Linked DNA regions of Homo sapiens: region 1 is linked to region 2. Evidence: fine-mapped expression QTL. A gene starts in region 2. The other region holds a variant in brackets. All regions are shown on one strand. Distances are between the middles of the regions.

Region 1 (2,916 bases), 33 kb after region 2:
GCACCTACCACTTTCAAGGCCCTATGTTCTGTGCTTAGTGGATACAAAAATAAAAGTTAGCTTTCCTATTGTGATGAGTAACACAAGAGTGACACAGTGTAGGGTTCAAGAAGAGAAATATCTATTCAGGTAAATCAAAGTATCTTTTATGGAGGTGGTTTTGAGATGGTTCTTAAAGGAAGAGTAGGATTTCAACAGATGAAATGTGAAGGGAAGTTGGTCCAGGCAGATTCATCTCATTGGCAGCAAGGTGTGGAAGAACTGGGATGTAGTTCAATTTGCCTGTAGCTTGGGCACCAATGAGAGAGTAATGGGATTATAAAACCAGAAAGATAGTGAAAAGACCTTGTAGTGGTCTAAATCCATTCTTGGGTTTAGAATGGAAAGTGTTGGCTAAATCTAAAACACATTGAGAAATCATTAAAAATGTTTGATTGGTTTGATGTTTCAGGAAGATGTTTCTGATGGGTGTTGTGTAGAGTGATCAGAAACTGGGAGAGCTAGGAGGCAGGGAGACCAACTGAGAAGACTGTCAATTTGACACCGAGGTTATGTTGGTCAGGATGCAGCCAGAGGCAAAAGTGTGAGGTCATGGTAGCTGACTGGTTGAGGGGCCTAAAGGAAAAAAGGATATGGATAACTCTGAAGTTTCAAACTTGGGCAACTGAATAATCCAACATAGGAAAGTGGGGAAGTGAGGTTGATTTGGCTTGGGTGATGATGGTAAAAATGTTGGTATTACATATGCTAAGATTAAAGCTTCATAAACCAAGTATAGCTACTCAGTGAAAGGCTAGTAGTGCTGGAGTTGAAGGTAAGGAGACAGGTGGTAGAGGTGTAGAGGAATCGTCTACATAGATATAAACATGGAAGCTATGGGAATAGGTAAGAGCAATGAGATATAACATATCATATAAAGGGAGAACCGTGAAGGAAGCGATAACGGTTATATGTTTGGATTGCAAATAATGGAAATCCCTACACATCATGGTTTAAGTAATGCAAGGAACTTATTGGCTCATGTAACTGAAAAATCCGATAATAGAGTGGGCTTCAGGCATAGTTCAGTCAGGGATTTGGATCCGTTGTGCATCAGTTCTCTCTGCTTTATTCTGTGTGTTGTTTCATTTTCATACTGGATTCCCTCAAGTTTGTACAATGGTAGCCAACAGCAATTAGGTTTACATGCTTTGTCGTTTATATCCAAGAGGAAAGAAATAACTATTTTCCCTCAACTA[C/T]CAAACAAAAATCCTGAGCTTGGCGCTAATTGGATCACCAGAGGTCATATGTAAATGTCACATGTTAATTGCTCTGGTCTGGTTTTCCCTGAGACATCATTGTGGTAGGAGGAATGGGTTTATACTAATGGGCTTAGATGAGTCATAGCTTCCACTAGAGCTGGGGGTAGGATCAGTCCCTCCCAATTCTCCTGGCTGCTACACAGTGGGAGGTAGATATCATTTAAAGTTCACTAAAAGGTTTGAGAACAAATTCTTATAGAGGTACAATTTTGGTAGGATAGAAGGGACTCTAAAGAAATTTTACGGCCACGGAACCTCAGATAGGAAAATGTTTCAATGAGGACAAGATAGCCAACAGGGTGGTAGGAATGATGACCGATAAAGGGTCATTTGCTTGGATTTTTAAGAAAATTATTGGTGGCCTTGACATGGCAGCTTTAGTTGAGTGTTGGTCATCAGTAAAAGAGGGCAAAAGGTTGAGAAGGAACTAGAAGATGAGATGGTGAAGTGTAGACTCTTCCTTCAGAAAGATGGATGGTGACAGAAAAAGATATTTCATGGGGAGAGGGAGAAATTGCCTATTGCTTTTAGGAAAAGGGAGATGAGGATATTTGCAGGCTGAGGGGAAAGAGCAGAAGAAGAGGGAGAGACAGATGATGTAAAAAGGGTGGAATAACTGATGCAGCATGGTGCTGAAGAGACAGGAAGAGGGACCGTGGTCAAATATGCAGGCAGGGAGGTGTGTTTGGAGAGGAAATCAGACACCTCTTCTTCAGAGATCAGCCTAGGAGGGAAGCCCAGGTAAAAATAGAAACATTGATGTGGAAGGAAGTTGAGGAAACTCAGGGACATGTGTGTAACTTTCCCAGTAAAATCACCTCTGAAGGTTGAGAGTGGCTTGATGCCCCAGGCAGGCCCAGAAGATTTGGAACAACCCCTGGGGGAATTCATTAGGAGGCTACAAAGCACGAATAAAAAGACGAGAGAATTGCAAATTAGTACAGTCTTTTGGAGAGCAGTCTGGCACCTCACAACAAAAGCCATAAAAGCGTCTCTAGCCTTTGACCTAATAATCCCTCTTCTGGGAATATATACCAGGGAAATAACTGAAAAGGAAATATAAGCTATTTGTGAAAAGATGTTTATTTCTGCCCTGTTCATAATAAGAAAATCCTGGAAAACACCCAAAAGCTCCACAAATGGGGAATTATTAAGCAAACTATGAAACATTAATATGATAGAATATTATATAACCATTACAAATGATAAATACTAGTACTCTGTCAATACATGAGAAAGTTTATACAGAAAAATGTTAGGTGAATGAGGTAGAGTATGAAATGGGATGAATAGTTGATTTCTACCCTTGCAAATGATGCTTATACAATGGCACGGTTTATAAAAGGTCACTGAATTATGCAAATAGTTGGTGTGAGGAGGTGAAGAGATTTTTTCCCCTTTAGAAAATTGTTTACTCATTTTTTAAAGAGTTGGCAAGCAGCTGAAGCTGGTCTGCATGCATTTCTAGTAATGCTGATGTGCAGGACTCTTGGGCAATCTCTCTTTCCAGAGAAAGAAACGGAAACTGGGGGACATGCAGAGCCAAAGACAGGTAAGGCAGTGAGTCATGAATGCAGGGTTCATCAAAAGATGATCAAGCTCTTTCCTGAAATGG
Region 2 (2,916 bases):
TTGAACTCAAATTTGCTCGAATTTGTACACTAAGCTAATGCAACTTACTGTCATCCTCTCTTGTTTTTTGGACCATTTTCAAGTATTCTTCAATCAATAAATTCAGAATAAACACAGACTAAAAATACCTAACTACACTTTCTTACCCCTTTAAAAATTAATCGCAGAGGTCGGGCACAGTGGGCACAGTGTCAAACGCCTGTAATACCAACACTTTGGGAGGTCGAGGCGGGAGGATCATTTGAGCCCAGGAGTTAGACCAATCTGGGCGACATAGTGAAATCCTGATTCTACCCAAAAAAAAAAAAAAAACTGATTGCAGAATTAGCATTCTCTGTAAGGGGAAAAATAAGACAATAAGCAACTTGCTTAGTCTCAAAGCTTAATGTCAAAAAAAATTAAACAGATGGGATATTTGGCTATTTATATTCTGAATTTCAACTGTGACACAAGACACAAGACCTGCTGGGGACAGGTATTAGTTGTAGTACAACCATATCTGAGGAACGTTTACTGCTTTATGCTTGTACCTGTGTGATACTGAAGGAAGGTTATAACAGCAAGAGATAGTTGTGTGTGCTGAGGAAGAAGAGTCTAAATTCTGGTGGGCCTTAAAATCCAGATGAAGTTTTAAATTGACTCCACAGGTGGTAACGCCCTAAGGTCACCTCTTCACTAGGAACCTGGCATAAAAACATCTGTATGGTTCAGATTCGTTTCCAAAGACACTTTCCCCCTATTTATTAACTAATTTGATCTTCGTATAGACATGAACCTGGTTTTAAAACTCAACTGACCTAGACTGGAGACTGGGGGATGGCAAGGTTATACCCGAAACATACTTTAGAGTTCAAAGCTTTCGCAGGAATATCACTTCTGCTGAAGCCCACAACCCTGGAAGGCCGCAGGGCAAAGAACATTAACCCCACTTTTCAGACAACGAAACCGAGGCTGCGCTAAACAGACTACTGTACAAAAGATCACAGGTCCAGCCAAGTGGCGGACTGAGACTTCCCCCAGGATATCAGACTCCAAATCCTGTGCTCCTTCCCGTACACAACTGAGAGGGGGCTGCACTCACAAACTTTAAAGATCGGACTTGGGGTTTTTCGCAGGCCTGCCAAGAAAAAGCAGGAAGTACATGCTCCTTTATAGATTGCTCACTCCCAGCCCGTAGCCCGGGGCTCCCGGGCAGCGGAGGAGGCTCAAAGGCGAGGCTCGAAGCGAAGCCCGGAAACCGCCGGCAGCCCTGGGGGCCCACGGCCCCGCAGCCCCGAGGGGGTAACCAGGGACCCCGCTCAATACCTGTTGAAACCCAGAAAAAGCACGTCCTTTCCGCCAGGATCATTTGGGGCGAGCGCCCAAAGCGAGCACGAGCCCCAGTGAGTGCAAAAGAGCCCCGGGAGGGTCCCTCTCAACCGCGGGCCCGCAGGGGTCAGAAGGCGGGAGCTTCCCAGTAACCTCCGCCCCAGGCAGGGGGCGGCCCCTCGCGTCACATGAGGAAAAAAAATACCAGCAACAAACGACGGAATGGAAGTCTTGTCCCGGGCTGTGAAGGGAGAAGTGGGGATTAAAAATCCTAGCTTGAGGTACAGAGGGAGGGGATACGGGGCTGGTTGTTACCGGCGCGCTGTTGCTCTCCGCTTCCGCCGTCTCCGCGAAGCTCTATCTCTTCCGCTCGCGCCGCTGGGGCGCGCGTCAGGCCTCGGCTCCGCCCCCAACGCCGTGGGGCCTTCTGGGGGTTGTAGTTTCCGCGAGGCCCGGCCGCGCCCACTGAGTTCAGGTCACGTAGGGGAGAAGCTGGCAAAATGGCGAGTGCCGGAGAGCATTTCTGCTCCTGTCCCTTCAACCCTTCCTCATTCCTCTCGGCTATATACGTGCGCAAATCTCCTTACATTCCACTCAATTATACCATCTCACTTCCTCCGTTCACAGCCAAGTTTTTTGAAAAAGATAATCTACACTGTCTCTACTTGCTCATCTGTGTTCACTCCTCATCGCAGCTTCCGCCCCCATGGAAAATGCCTTGTTGTCATAAGTGTCCTTGTTGCCAAACTCATTGGAGGTATTTCCGGACTCATCTAACTCAAGCTTTAGTCATTTGACGCTATTGGGCATTATCACTTATTTTCTATGACACTATCCAGGTTTTCCTTCTCTGAATTCATTCTACTTTGTTTCCTCTAACTTACCTCTAAAATATTGGTGTTTTCCAGAGTTCTTAAAATTGGGGTGGGAGAGGGGACACTCCAGTCCCTTCTCACCTGAGCTCATTGTTTGTATTCCCAACTTCCTAGACAAGACCTCTCCTCATCCATGCCCACAGGCATCTCCAGTGTCCTTGAAAAGTGAACTACTGGGGCCAGGAACAGTGGCTCATGCCTGTAATCCCAGCACTTTGGGAGGCCAAGGCAGGTGGATCACCTGCGGTCAGGAGTTCGAGACCAGCCTGACCAACATGGTGAAACCCTGTCTCTACTAAAAGTACAGAAATTAGCTGTGCGTGGTGGTGGGCACCTGTAATCCCAGCTACCCAGGAGGCCGAGGCAGGAGAATTGCTTGAAGGAGAATCGCTTGAACCCGGGAGGCGGAGGTTGCAGTAAGCCAAAATTGCACCACTGCACTCCAGCCTGGGCAACACAGGGAGACTCCGTCCCCCAAAAAAAGAAAAGTAAACTACTACCCCTCCTCCCTACTCATTAATATTCACTCTTTAACCTGATTCCTCCTTTCTCACTTCCTCTTCCTCCAATATTCAAATGGTCACCAAATCTTGGAGATTCTATTGTAGCAGGACGAGCCGCAGACAAAACCTCTCAGACACCAAGTTGTAGAACGAAGGGCTTTATTCAGCTGGGAGCATCGGCAAGCTACTGTCCTAAAATCCAAGCTCCCCGAGTGCACAATTTCTGTCCC

Direction of the effects. Positions count from the first base shown, and alleles are read on the strand shown. Sizes are in standard deviations (SD) of each study's normalised expression.
For the expression in sun-exposed skin of the gene that starts at base 1,673 in region 2, allele C in region 1 goes with a lower level than allele T (small effect, 0.23 SD a copy in GTEx).

What was found. PIP is the estimated chance that this variant, and not a neighbour inherited with it, causes the effect.
Region 1: its variant is the best candidate, but not a certain one, in a credible set for the expression of R3HCC1L in sun-exposed skin (GTEx, PIP 0.58).

Annotation. Positions count from the first base shown.
Region 1 is chr10:98,099,986-98,102,901 of GRCh38, reverse strand. No RefSeq gene overlaps it. Among named protein-coding and RNA genes, the nearest start is that of R3HCC1L, 33 kb to the left of the region's middle. The variant C/T (reference allele first, on the strand shown) is at 1,239.
Region 2 is chr10:98,133,414-98,136,329 of GRCh38, reverse strand. It overlaps R3HCC1L (R3H domain and coiled-coil containing 1 like), which reads right to left and starts at 1,673. Exons shown (of 10, transcript NM_001351015.2): 1 at 1,624-1,673. RefSeq lists enhancers at 975-1,114, 457-1,246.